Homo sapiens: one gene and its partner. The protein of the gene in region 2 binds, or shares a complex with, the protein of the main gene of each other region. Each region holds a gene or a part of one and is shown on either strand. Other genes may lie near its edges.

Region 1 (7,024 bases), on a different chromosome or scaffold from region 2:
AACCCACAATAGAAAAAGATTGAGTTTCATCCTATTTCACAAACCTGCAGAGTTGCTGCAGATACATTTTTTATCTGTTACAATCATTTTTACAAGTGAATAATACGACTTCAAAAACAGGGTGAAAAAAATGAACTGCACTCCTGGTAAAAAGTAAGCAACATTCTTTCCCCGTGATGTCTGGTTTTCTGGCATTGGTGACCCACGGTGGAAAAATGAACAGCTTTACATGTTGGTAAGCTCTCCAGATTCTAGGGAGCCTGAGATAATGCTGCCAGTGTAATCACTCATGCCACTGTATTCTGAGTCCTATTTCTTCTTCCAAAGGGACAAAAATGCCAGGAAATAGGAAGTCCATGATGGGACCAGATATGGTAGAGACTGAAGCGGGGGGCAGGGAGGGAAAGTGACACTTAAATCTATTCATGTAGCCAGACTTTCTAGAGTCCATACTGAAGAGGAGAAGCAGCCCCCGTCTTAGGCCAACCACTTGCCTATTTACTAAATCTTCCCAATGTAGCTTAAAGCCTGATTTTAGGAGCCGAAGAACAAAGCCCTAAGATTCAGGTAAGACCATCTTTTTTTCACAATGCAGCTCTACAAAAATATTCCCAGTAGCTGACACCCTGCTTCTAAGAATAGAACTCTATTAGCATTGCTTGGGAAGAAATTTTCTTTCAAACTAAAATATTAGAAAAAAGTCAAATTATTAAACTTCTGCAGGCCACTTCTTTTAGTAGGAACTATCTGTAGATGTTTCAAGCTGTTAAATTGCTGTCTGATATGCTGCAGTTTTCATTCTCCTACTTATTCTGAATAGCAGGAAGAGTTATTACTAGAGTTATTATTCTTTAAAACATGAGTTTTAAAGGTTTACTACATTTTCACATGGATTTTTCTGATATCCAGGAGGCAAAATCATTTCTTTGTCTCTTGTAGAAATCAAGGAGAAATCATGGTTGACTTAAAGGAAATTCCCTTATGGTAAACTACTAAAGGAAAAAAACAGTATTGTTGAGCAACAGATGGTCATATTAGGCTTTCAAGACGCTGCCAAAACTTCAGGAGAAAATTAGATGGTTTGAAGGAAGTGAATGCAAGTTTACTCATCAGTAGTACATTTATCAGTCATCTGCTGACAGAAATCTGAGATCCCACCACTCTGACGACACTGTTCCGCAGGCCCAGCTTGCTCAGAGGTGGCTGTGGACATCTGCTGGGACTCCTGCCCTCGCGCGTAGCCAGGCTCACTGTTTCCTCTGGCACAGGGAGGCAGCACTGCTGGAGGCCGGTCAGATAAACTGAAAATTGATGGTAACGCCAGTTCACCATCAGGAGTACTTTTATCTTTTTCAGAAATTAAAAATGAAAGTGGGCAATCTGCAGCTGAGTACTTGGCGAGTATCTGTATTTGTTCTTGACTCAGAGCTGCTTCTTTACAAACTTTCTGGCAAAGTCCAGTTAGGTTCTGCTTTGTCTCACCCAGAGTTGACAAAATGTGATCTCTTTCCTTCAACAAGCTCTCCTTTTCACTTTGCTGTGAAGTGGGGAAAGAGAACACAATGGCTTGTGTTTATTAGCTCAATCAACATTTCCAAGGCGATCAAATAATATACAGGGGCTTCTCATCAAGTAAGATCACATGGAGTTTATCCTTTCAATTCCATTCAATTATACATTAAATACTAAAGGCCCAGAATCTCCCACCCAAAACTCTTGGGGCAGATGTATTTTGGCACAAAGCATTTTTCAGGTTTTGGAAAGACAGTATGGGTGCACACATAATTTCTCTAGCAGGCCTGGGGCAGCACTTCCCTATCAACTATCTTTACATTTCTAGGTAAACATTAAAATAGCAAATAATGAAGAAAGTAGGATAAAGACTATGTAGTCTAATGTCAATTTGGGGCAGTTTTTCGGTCAAAAGAGTTTGTGACAAACATACGGTTTTTGGAGCTTTCTGGATTTACAGACTGTACATAACAGGTATGGATGGCATTTTGGATGGGATACAAGAAAAAAAGTAAAAGTACAGTTAGCATAACTTAATTACTGAGACTCAAAGCATTGCAAGATTCAACTAATGACCAGCATTTGTTGAGCAGATTCTCTGACAGATATTGTGCTAAATGTTTTCCAACATGCAATCTCAGCTATGTAATCCACACAACACCTCTCTTGATTTAAGCAACATCAAACCCACTGAAGGGATGGGACTGAATTTAAGATGCCTAGAGACAGCCGGTGGGTGAGTTACTAAAGTGTGAAGAATTCGGGGGGGTAATTTTGTGCTTGCTAATTACCATTTTTGTTATTATTATAATTTTAAGATATTACCCCTATAAGAAAGTCTACCACAGAATTTTTCAAAAGTTTTTCTGGTTCCTGCCTTCCTGTCCATGTCACTTATCACTGCTGACAGCATGTCTTTTCTATTATCATCCCATTTCATCCTTCTTGTTCTAACATCTTATTGCTTCTAATCTATTATGAGCCAGGAAACCAAATAATCAAGGTATTTATAAGAAAAGAGTAAATAAACACTTGCTAGAAAGTCAAACGTTTTTCTTATGAAATTTATCACAACTCTCAACAAGTCAGTGTTGTTCTGTTTGCTTTCTGTTCATTGACAGGTTCTGGAGAGTTGAGGCTGCCAGTTAACCTTGAGACAAGTTAGTTCATAGTGCTAATCTATAAGTGCCATCCTTTAGTCTTTTATGACATAAAAGTCACTAAAAGGGTAAAACGAATTTTGCTTTATACAAAAGTATTGTTATGGTTTTATACAAAAGTATTACTATAAAATTATGTATGAATCCAATTATTGTTATTTCTAAAATATTTTAAAGCCTTGTAATATTTTGAGAAAATATACAATAAATACAAAATACTAAATTTTTATATGGCAAAGTATTCTCCAATCTGTTCAGATTTTTATATACAAGTTCTTTTTTTTTTTTTTTTTAAATAGATGTAGGTCAAGAATGTGCGTGTTAAGTATGTGTATGTAAGCAAAATCAATGTTTGGCCAGTACATTTTCTCTTATGCAAAGTTTATCAGTTGCACTCTTCTGATAAAATGAGTCTGCAGATACTGAAAGGGCAAGAACGGTACCTACTGCTTGTTCACAGTAGGAACCATTAAATGCAATCAACACCCATTTCTTTTTATGGTCTCTCAGAAGCCAATCCAAAGGAGGATGAAAACAAAGCTTCCAGAAGAAAGTGAGAAAGAATCTTTCTTCACTCATGGCAATATTCAGCCATGGACTCCTCTACCAAAGTTGGGATGAATCTATTCTAAACAGCAATAGAAAATTTTCAACTGCTGGTTGGTCTTTTAAATTAAATATGGTTCAACAAAATAAGGAGTACTTGAGCTTCCTCCCAGAAATTAGAACCACTACTTAACCTACAGATACTATGAAGATTACAAATATTTTATGACTTCTGTATCTTAATATCCACATGATCTTTAAATACTCTCACTCCTCCCACCCCACTAAATTAGGGATGACATCATTCTTTAAGTATACAAGATGGCTTGCTTCTTCACAACAACTAAAACAAATAGGCACAGCCCTAGAACTCCACCAGAATTATTTCTATAAATTAAATGTTCCCATCTGTTCCCCTGCACTTTAACTCCTACACAGCTAAGCTTCTAAGCAGTTTCCATTTCACTCTAAGTTTAAGACACATATTTACTATAATAGCAGTCAGCTTAATAACTAAAAGTAAAATACAAGTAATTCAAGTTAATTACTTAATGACATCAGTATTTAAGATACCTCCCAAAGTCACTACTTACAGTCATGAGTGGGACTCACTATTAGTGTCCTGCTACCTATCCCTACAATATATTTCCATTTTCCTATAAAAACAACTGTATAAATCACGTTTGAAGTGCTGCACCTTTAATTAGAGCTATTTCTTAAAAAGGAATAAAATTGGCATTCTGGTACCATTCTGGATTTTATACCAACAAAAAATCTTTACAGGCTGGGCACAGTGGCTCACGCCTGTAATCCCAGCACTTTGGGAGGCTGAGGTGGGCGGGTCATGTGAGGTCAGGAGTTCGAGACCAGCTTAGCCAACATGGTGAAACCCTGTCTCTAATAAAAATACAAAAAAATTAGCTGGGCATGGTGGCACACACCTGTAAACCTAGCTAAAAGGGCAGGCTGAGGCAGGGGAATCACTTGAGCCTGGGAGACGGAGGTTGCGGTGAGCCGAGATTGTGCCGCTGCACTCCAGCCTGGGTGACAGAGCAAGACTCTGTCTCAAAAAAAAAAAAAAAAAAAAACCTTTGCATCTAAATCCTTATTTTGAATAGCTAGTGCACAATATTTATTCAAATATAATTTTTTTAAAGATCATAAATATAACTCACCCAATAAAGATATAGAAGAATTTGGCACCAAAAGTACAAGTGACAATTTTATGATAGGGTAAAGAGTACTCACTGTTAGAAAATGGTCACTAATAGTTCCTTAGTAAGTAAAACCTCTGAACGGCAGTTCAGAGAAATCTGCAAATGGCACTGAGAAATATAAGCAAAAATGCTCATTTTCACTCATAAGATAAAAATAAAAGCTACCACGAGATATCATGGTATCTCACTATCAGACTGGAAAAAACCCAAAAGCTGACAACAAATCTTGACTGAGGGTGTGGACAGACACACACACATATACTGCTGCTGGAAGGCCAAATATGACAATTCCTAAGGAGGGGAATCTGTTAATATCTAATAAAATTATGTATGTATTTACCCTTGATCCAACAATCCCACTTCTAGGAATGTGTCCTAGAGACACAGCTCCTTAAACATGAAACAGTATACAGTTATTCACTGCAGGATCCCAACTGTCCACCCACAGAAGACTGGTTTGAACTGTATTACAGTCACTACTGAGTACTATGGAGCTGGAAAACGAATGACAACCTCTCTGAACTAAGAAAAAATATTTCCTATAAATCAATTCTTAAGTTTAAAAAGTACAGAAAAATGTATATAAAATACTTCCATGCAGCAGGATGGATAATAAGAGTAGACATAAAATGTTAACACATTTTTAGAAAAGAAACACAGGGAAAAAAAAATCCAGAAACTAATGAAAATGGTTACCTATAGGAAGTAGCTATGAATAGGGTATAAGGAGAAGATGAGATCAAGATTTGGAGTATATATTTTTTAAAATATAGTTTTAATGTTTGAACCATATAAACGTTTTACATTCAAAATAAAACAAATTAAAAATGTAGGCCAGGCATGGTGGCTCATGCCTAAAATCTCAGCACTTTGGGAGGCCAAGGCAGGAGGATCGATTGAGCCCAGGAGTTTTGAGAGGAGCCTGGGCAACACAGCGAAACCTCACCTTCACAAAAAAATTACCCGGGCATGGTGGTGCGCACCTGTAGTCCTGGCTACTCAGAAGGCTGATATGAGAGGATTTGCTTGATCCCAAGAAGTCAAGGCTGCAGTGAGTCATGACTGTGCCACTGCACTCTAGCCTGGGTGACAGAGTGAAACCCTGTCTCAAAAAATGTAGAGTAAATCCCAGTAATATAAATAGAAAAAAAAATTAATTGTATGCCAAATTGGTAACACAAATATTTCAAATAACTTTAAAGCTTCACACTGGGAAATATTTAAGCATAAAAAAGCAAATAAATCTCAAATTCTGCTCAATTTGTTTACTGTTAATAGTAATACTGATTGTCTAATTTTCTTACTTTTTATACAGTGTGCCCTCACTTAAAATCATCGACAGGTTTTTGGAAACTGACTTTAAGAGAAACAACGCACACCAGGTCCTCAATAAACATTTTGTTCCACATCCTTTCTTTTTTATTTTATTGTTTATTTATATTATACTTTAAGTTCTAGGGTACATGTGCACAACGTGCAGGTTTGTTACATATGTATACATGTGCCATGTTAGTGTGCTGCACCCATTAACTCGTTTTTTTTGTTTTTGTTTTTGTTTTTGTTTTTGTTTTAAGACGGAGTTTCGCTCTTGTAGCCCAGGCTGGAGTGCAATGGCATGATCTCAGCTCACCGCAACCTCCACCTCCCAGGTTCAAGCGATTCTCCTGCCTCAGCCTCCCGAGTAGCTGGGATTACAGGTTTGCACCACCATGTTGGCCAGGCTAGCCTCGAACTCCTGAGCCACCGCACCCGGCACATTAGGTATATCTCCTAATGCTATCCCTCCCCACTCCCCCACCCGACGACAGGCCCCGGTGTGTGATGTTCCCCACCCTGTGTCCAAGTGTTCTCATTTTTACAACATCCTTTCATTATAAAGTTGATGAGGAAAAAAACTGGTTTCATTATCCATCATTTCATGTTAAGTGAGAACTTACTGTATATTATAAAGGAAACAATACACTAATGTAATTGGAGCCAAAATTTTTCCTGTAAATGATGAGAGATTAAACATAAACACAGAAGTGAAGACAAAAGCTCTATACTGCTAAATTTGGACTGGAAATACTACATAAACTCAGGATTTCTAATGTACTTTTTACTTTCATTTACTGAAGCCTGATATATATGAATTCATGATATAATGAACTTTATTTTATACACAGATGCATATATTTCCTAGCTCTGTCCACTGAAAAAGGCCCAGAAGGAATAATACTCCAGCAGCAGGTAGGCTTTCCAAAGTCCAATATAACTGCTAGAAGAAACCAGGAGTTTTAAAGAAATGGGTGATTCCAAATCTTGAAACAATAGAGGTTAAAAAGTGAGACCATGGCAAGTGCTAGATGGTTATGTCAACAGGACAGGAGCTGGCTTGAACGGGCTCTCCCAGGCCAAATTTGAAAAATGTCAACATCAAAAAGAATAATGACTATTACTTATCCTAACAAATTGAATCAGAAAAAATTAATCCATGAGTCCACTGTGATTCCAAAGAGTGGGAGGGAGGGAAAAGAGAAAACAAGAAAAGGCCAGGCATGGTGGCTCATGTCTGTAATCCCAGCACTTTGGGAGGCTGAGGAAAGCAGA
Region 2 (7,832 bases):
AGGTCATTAGTTGGAGACCAGCCTGACCAACATGGTGAAACCCTGTCTCTACTAAATACCAAAAAAAAAAAAAAAAAAAAATTAGTGGGGCATAGTGGCGCATGCCTATAATCCCAGCTACTTGGGAGGCTGAGGCAGGAGAATTGCTTGATCTGGGAGGTGGAGGTTGCAGTGAGCTGAGTTTGCGCCATTGCACTCCAGCCTAGGTAACAGAGTGAAACTCTGTCTCAAAAAATATATATATAATATATATATATATTTTTTACGGTAGATTTTAAACACCAAAATTATGAAAAGAGACTGTAGCTAACCTTATTACATGCCAGTTCTTCTAATTTATTTAAGAATTATTTTAACTTTTTTTTTTTCATTCTATTTCAGGCTGGTACACCCCTCCAAAGGAAGATGGCTAAATGTGTTGACTGTTGTATGTTTGGACTAATGTTGCTTTAAAGAAAATCTTTCTAACATGCAGACAAAAGCTTTGAGTGCCCCTATTACAGCAGTACCGAAGATGTTAGTTAATAGATATTTTAGTGGATAATCTGTCATCTGACATCCAGTATAAGTTACAGCCTTTGCATTTTGCTCATTTTAGATATCTTGGACTGAGCAGTGGGGCCTTTACTGTATTTTTCCTGATAAATACACATACTGGCCACTCCTTATCTCTTTTTCTTGAAAAGTGAACTTTTTAAAGCAGCCAAGTCAACATCAGGCTACTGAAGTTGAGGCTTTAGGGTAACTTTCCTATATTGAGCCCATGGGTTACAAGGATTTGCAATATATTGTTCCATTTACAGCCAATACAGGTTTAATCGATGTTCAATATTGGTTTAGGAAATTTAAGGCCTTCTAAATCATAATAGCTCTTTCATGTCTAAAACCATTTTATGATATTGCCAAAATGTGATAGGAAACCTACTCATTAAATTGTTAAACTTTTTAATGACTATGTGAAGATATGAATTGTTTCCTGAAGATAATACTCTTAATTGAGTTGTATTGTACTTCTTAGGCAAAGCAGTGTAAAACTGTATCAATTAAGGCTTGTGAGTAGTGATTTCCACTGGGGCATCAGAGTCTTGGCTGGGCTGAATCTGCTGCTTGTTGGTTCAGTGTTTCTTATGAACAAGAGCCACAGTACAGAGCTTCAAGTTATTTAAAATACTAAGTCATCTTACGTTTCCATTTTATTAACGGGATGTTGCAATCGTTTGTAAACTAATAAACTTATAAAGTGATTGGCACAAAGACTCCTTGAGCAAAAGCTGTGCAGTTAAGTACAAAAAGATACTTAATTTGGAGACTCTTACAGTAATTTTTGCCATGTCAAAACAATGGCTTTTACATTGAAAGATTAATAGAAACTCTACATATGTTAATTTTTTTATAGAACCTGACTCAAATCAAGGTACTCTCCATTTTATTGCCTTACCTGAATCAGTCCTTTTTGGTTGGTAATAGATTTTTTTATACACCCACGTTTGATTTAAAAGTAAATTCTAGTTCTTAAGCACTTTTAACAAATCCAGAAGCACATTTTTCTGCACAAACAAGTTACAAAGTTCAAAAGTGTTTCTTGTGCATTAGCTTTGAGATTCAGTTTTTAACTTTGTAAACCACATCTGAGAGACTTGTCATTTCTACATTGTGTGTGTTTAATTTCTTTTGATTCCATTTTGGTTAAGAGAGCAGTAAATAGATTTTCTGGTATTCTTGTTCACTTGATTACATTTGTATAAAGTTCTGATTGCCAGTTGCTCAGATAACAAGTGACAAGGCAGAATTCTTTAAATCAGTAAAGTTCCTTAAGCCTAAGGCTAAATCTTGAATACATTGTTGAATTCTTTAATATCCTGATGGCAAGCAGACTGATAGCTGCACATTTGGCATGCTTTGTTTAATGGATTTTATTTTTAATTGCAGATTTATTTGGCAATGTACAGTAAATTTTGTAAACTTGCATCAAGTTTATGAATAAAGAACCATTTAAAAATTTTGTTTGTGCTGATCATGGCAAGCAAAAAAAAGATTACTTTCTCATTTTTCCCTCATAAGAAAACTCTGCTTGATGTGTTTGTAGGCTTTATTGAGTTTCTGGAATAAGATATTTAAGGAGGGAAGTGGTGAGGGGAGGCTTGGAAGACAGGCAGATTTAACAAGAGAAAGTGAAAGTGTGAAAGAACCTGGAAATAGTCTGTACAATAGTCACCTTTTCCTCCGCCTTTTTCCTCTTCCATTCTCATTATAAATTCAAGTGCTACTTTTTCCTTATGGCTATCCTTAGTTCCCCCAGTGAAAATAATCTGCTCCTTCCTTAGCATACCCATGGCCTCCTTGCACACAATTGACAGATTATTTCACATACAAGAAGTCCAGAGGTAGGACAACTCCAGGTACTGTACATCTGGGCTTTGCTCTGCTTCCTTGAGATTTTTCTATGTTGGTTTCATCTTTTGGTTGCATGTTATGTGCAGCCCCCTTACTTGATCCAGAGGTAGATAAATGGCCCTGTCTTCTAGTGTCTCCTTAGGAGGTGAGGAAATCTCTAAAAGCACCATCCCATCAAGCACACTGCCTCTTGCCTTTCCTTGGCTACATCAGGGACCTGTGCCCACCCCTAAACCAATGGTGGTGAAAAGAATGAAACCATCGTGATTAGTTTGCACAAATGGTTCTCAAAGCCTTATTTGGGGAACACTGGAGACCCCTGAGACCATTTCAAGAGGTTTTAAAAGACTATTTTCATAATATTAAAACATTTGCCATTTTCACTCATTCTTCCATGTGTACAATGGAATTTTCCAGAGGCTACATGATGTGATTTTGCAACAGATTGAATTCAGAAGCAAATATGAGAATCTATTTGTCTTCTATTAAGACAAATTAAATATTTGCAAAAATGTAGTGATGCCGTCACTGGTAAACTGTCCTCTTTCCCTACTTTATATCAGCCACAAAGAAAGAACGCCCACTTTGAAAGGCAGTCAGGTTTCATTCAGTAGCCAGAGAATGGAGAAGGGGAGCTCATACTCTAAAGGCACCTTCTCCCAGAGGGATGGGAGGCTGGGGAGTTTAAAGAGTTAGCTGAGGGGCGGGGGAGGTATGAACGGCATGCACAGACTGGAGTTCCAGACAAGCAGGCATAGTCCCTGAACATGCTGCTTCATACATCCATGTTCGTAAGATGCCAGTGAGCTTTCTTTAGGGAGAGGATTTTAGCATTATGTTAATTATCTAAAGGTAACTGGAGGGCGCCTGTTTATCTTCCTCTGGTATTCCGCAAGGGGTCAGGAAGCTCTGGTGACATCTGGGCCATCTGGCTTCCTTAAGCAGCTGCGCCTATAAATAGACTATGGGAAAAAACTGGCTGGGCTTGGTGGCTCATACCTGTAATCTCAACGCTTTGGGAGGCGGAGGCAGAGGGATGTCTTGAGGCCAGGAGTTTGAGACCAGCCTGGGCAACATAGACCCTGGGTCTACCAAAAAAAAGAAAAAAACCACAGCTACTCAGGAGGCTTATGCCACTGACAATGTCATACTATCCACCAGTGGGGGAAGGAGGATTTGGGAAATAATTGTTTTCCATAAAAATATTTCGTTAATGTATAACATCGGTTTTTTAAAAAGAGTTAAGCATTAAGATGTTCTGATTTAATTTTTAATATGGTAAATATTGATAGTCATAACACACATAAACTATTGGTCGTGTCAATATTTTAGGGTGTAAAGGGTCCTGAGGCCATAATGAGAACTGCTAATTTAGACCAAGTTTCTGCCCAAGATCTGGCGATCAAATCAGGGCTCCCTTAGGAAGGAATTGGCGGGAGGAATGGATGTTAGGTGGGGACAAACCTGTGTCTGCTGTGCTTCCATTTCTTGGTGGTTCTCAGTTTGAGCATGCATCAGAATCGTCATAAAGTGTGTTAAAACAGATTGCTGGGCCTCACCCCCAGTGTCTGATTCAGGAGGTCTGGGATAAGGACCGGGAATGTGCTAAAACTTAGTAGTTTCCAGGTGAATCTGATGTCCCTGGCGGGGAACTGGTGCACAGCTTGGGGCGTGCTTCACAGCAATCATCTCACTCAGCTACCTTAGAATGGCAGGTGCTATTTATGCCATTTTACTCATTCGAAACTTTAAACCTGAAGATTACAACGAGTTAACTAAGTTTACAAGGAATAAAGGCAGTGATTTTCACACACTAAGACAATTTTTTAAAAGCAAACGTCCGTTTATAAATCGAGCTTATGCTATTTAAACAGGCATTGGGACTACGAAGAGCAATAAGTACTACCTAGTCCCTGCAAGGAATTTGTGAATTAGAGAAAGATGTAAACTCAGAAATATGGCGGTGCCAGGGCAGTGAGAGGCACAGGCACAGAAGAAGAATTTATTTTCACTGCAGGAGGCCTCCTAGAAAGTTGCCAGGAGCGGTGGCTTATGTCTGTAATTCCAGCACCTTGGGAGGCCCAGGCGGGAGTATCGCTTGAGCCCTGGAGTTTCAGACCAGCCTGGAAACCCGTCTCTACAAAAAATACAAAAATTAGCTGGGCGTGGTGGCGGGAGCTTGTAGTTAAAGCTACGAGGGAGGCTGAGGCGGGAGGATCGCTTGAGCCTGGGAGGTAGAAGCTGCAGTGAGCAGAGGCCGCGCCACTCCACTCCCGCCTGGCCACAGCATTAGACCCAATCTCAAAAATGAAGAAAACAGTTCCGAGCGTATTACGGAACGGAGTACACCTCGGAGTACGGGCTCCAGACGAGGGAACGCACCGGCGTTGCCACGCCCACCTTCCCCGTCCAGCCGGAAGTGGCGCGGACGCCTGCTCAGTGCGCGCCGGCCGGGCAACCCTATGCTGGCGTAATCGGGTTCCTCCGAGCCGCCGTAGGACTGGTTCCGGCGGGCTGGTGAGGAATGGAGCCGGTAGGCTGCTGCGGCGAGTGCCGCGGCTCCTCCGTAGACCCGCGGAGCACCTTCGTGTTGAGTAACCTGGCGGAGGTGGTGGAGCGTGTGCTCACCTTCCTGCCCGCCAAGGCGTTGCTGCGGGTGGCCTGGTGAGGAGAGGAGGCGGAGGCGGGAAGCTTGCCTGGGGACACGCCGTGGGCATGTCCCAGGCTGGCGGGGTGGGGGGAGAGACCCTTGGGACCCACCAGGGCCGTCCCCGGCTCGCTCGCCCTACCTGAGGTGACCCCCTACCCGCGAGGTATCTCCCAGCCGTGGTGCCCCGGGGGGACTTCCCTGAGGGGCGAAGTTCCCCTTAAGGTTTTCTCCATATCTGGCTCTTCTTCCGAACTAGCGCCCTGACTGACACCTACCTACCCCGGGGACTTTGGATCCCGCAGGGATCTCCTGCTGCTGCGCCAGCGGGTGGGGGTTTGTGAGCTGTGGGAGAGACGAAAATGAACGTCCGTTCGCAATCCTTTGTGCGTTTGCGTCCTCAGCGTGTGCCGCTTATGGAGGGAGTGTGTGCGCAGAGTATTGCGGACCCATCGGAGCGTAACCTGGATCTCCGCAGGCCTGGCGGAGGCCGGCCACCTGGAGGGGCATTGCTTGGTTCGCGTGGTAGCAGAGGAGCTTGAGGCAAGTAGCAAGGGGTGTCATGCACAGTCATTTGCAGGTTGGTGGTTCAGTCTTTGAGAACTATTTTTTTTTAAATCCCAGTTTTGTTAATTAAAGGAACATCTCGTTCCGTGAAAAGATTTTGTAAACATCAGTTTTAGTGACTACACGGTAAGGATGTGTCATGATTTATTTGACCGTTCATCAAATGTTGGGCCTTTTTTTTTTTTTTTGAGACGTAGTCTCGCTCTGTGGCCCAGGCTGGAGTGCAGTGGCGCGATCTCGGCTCACCGCAAGCTCCGCCTCCCGGGTTCACGCCATTCTCCTGCCTCAGCCTCCCGAGTAGCTGGGACTACAGGCGCCCGCCACCATGCCCAGCTAATTTTTTGTATTTTTAGTAGAGATGGGGTTTCACCGTGTTAGCCAGAATGGTCTCGATCTCCTGACCTCGTGATCCGCCCGCCTCGGCCTCCCAAAGTGCTGGGATTACAGGCGTGAGCCACCGCGCCCGGCATGTTGGGCCTTTTAAGTATCCACATTTTCACTATTAACAACAACGCTGTGCAGAACCTTCCCTTCACCTGCTTCCCTTGAAGCAACTTTTTGTTGTCTGTTTTACCGGGAAGACAACTGGGTGTGTCTTGCTCAGTGAGCACACCTAGAAAGCCAAGAACCAAAACTTAAAGCCAAATATTTCAACTTCTGATCCTGTACTCTTTTGCTTCTCTGGCCCCCAACTTCAAAAGGGGAGCCAACACCAGGAGAGATGAAGACTCGAACTGTGGAGTCAGAGGGGCTGCAGGGTGTACCATCTCTGGGGAGTGGAAGGGAACCATTTGACAGTAAAGTGCCAACCTGCTGCTCTGTCACTCTGTTTACTTTAGTACGGCTTACAGACAGACATAACTACGGTGCAGCCGTCACAATCAGGAAATTATCACTGATACATTTCTACCATTTTATCCTCAGACTCGGTTCAGATTTTGCCAGTTGTCCCAGTAAGGTTCTTCATGGCAAAAAGATCTGTTCCCAATTGCAATTTGCTCTGAGTAAGTCCTGTTTCTTTAATCTCCTTTGATCTGGAACAGTTTCTCAAGCTTTGCTTGATTTTTCCCAATCTTGACACTTAGGAAAATCACAGGCTATTTTGTAGAACATCCATCAATTGTGTCTTTGGCAGGAAATAATCACAGAAGTGATGCTGTGCTTTTTTCACGGCATACTTTAGGTGGCATGTGATTTCCATTCGTCTTGTTATTGGTGGTATTACCTTTGATTACTCAATTAAGGCGATGCTTGCCAAGTGTCTTCACTAAAATCACTCTTCTACTGTAATGATTGTTTTGTGAAGAGATCATTTGAAACTATGTAAATATCGTGTTTCAATTCATTTATTTATTTATATCTGTACACTCTCGGAGTCTTATTTAATTCAGTGGGATATAATCTGTTACTGTATTTTGGTGCTCAAATTACCCCTCTCACCCCCTAGTTTGGCTAGTAGGAGCTCCTTCAGGCTGGCTTCAGTGTCTTTTTAGAGATGACTCCATTATCTTTGAGCACTTTTCTTGTTTTCTGGCACAAGATGTTCTAAGCTTGTCTTGGGTTTTACCTGCCTTGGTCCTGGAATTGGCCATTAAGCCCTGGCTCCTTTTGATGGAGTGTGGTATTTAGAAATCAAGGTCTAGACTCTCTAAGTGTACTCCTTGCCATTGAGGGATTTGCTGCTCCAAAGCCCAGTCATTAGAGCCAAGGAATATAAGTATGTATATACATGCATGTGTATGTATATACATTAGTATATACATATACACACATTTACAATTATATTTCTATATATATGTGGAGGCTCATGAGTTCACACAGGTGCATCCTTTTCGAATCAAACGCAGGATGCTTTCTAGTTTTGTCTCTGCTCATATTTGTACCTCCCTTTTGGGCAAAGGGAAACCTGGTTCTCATCATTCTTAATGTATTTAGATATTACATCAATGCCCCATATGTAACCAATCTTCTGTTTCCCCCTTCCTTGGGTGGTCTTTCTCCTTACCTTGTTTGGGCTCTGGAACTCTCATTCCAGGGAGCTGGCCAGTATCCAAAGGCAGGCTTGTAGAAAACTTTTCTTCTCTGGCACTTTGTCTCAACTCTTCCCATTTTCCCAGAAGTTTATCATTTGGAAAAATTCAAAATGCAAGCAGATTTCCTCGAAAGTGTTCTCTGGAGCATCGTTTATAATAAGGGATACTAAAAACCTAATGTTAATCTAATA

Evidence for each region. The genes of interacting proteins can lie anywhere in the genome.
Region 1: the proteins of FBXO22 (region 2) and BACH1 are in contact, whole or in part, in a cryo-EM structure (PDB 8S7D), measured with the Homo sapiens proteins. Residues at the interface, in NP_671717.1 of Homo sapiens: Asp366, Gly371, Asn372, Phe373, Ile374, Leu375, Arg376, Lys377, Cys378; in NP_001177.1 of Homo sapiens: Ser7, Val8, Phe9, Ala10, Tyr11, Glu12, Ser13, Ser14, Val15.

Annotation. Positions count from the first base shown.
Region 1 is NC_000021.9:29,336,912-29,343,935, reverse strand, and holds part of BACH1 (transcription regulator protein BACH1), read right to left. Parts: intron 1,538-7,024; coding exon 1,103-1,537; 3' UTR 1-1,102. UniProt on the Homo sapiens protein: Transcriptional regulator that acts as a repressor or activator, depending on the context. Binds to NF-E2 DNA binding sites. Plays important roles in coordinating transcription activation and repression by MAFK.
Region 2 is NC_000015.10:75,899,046-75,906,877, forward strand, and holds the start of FBXO22 (F-box only protein 22), read left to right. Parts: upstream 1-4,832; 5' UTR 4,833-4,918; coding exon 4,919-5,058; intron 5,059-5,445; coding exon 5,446-5,584; intron 5,585-6,530; exon of another isoform or gene 6,531-6,612; intron 6,613-7,832. Other genes in the region: UBE2Q2 (ubiquitin-conjugating enzyme E2 Q2), read left to right, coding at 382-413. UniProt on the Homo sapiens protein: Substrate-recognition component of the SCF (SKP1-CUL1-F-box protein)-type E3 ubiquitin ligase complex that is implicated in the control of various cellular processes such as cell cycle control, transcriptional regulation, DNA damage repair, and apoptosis.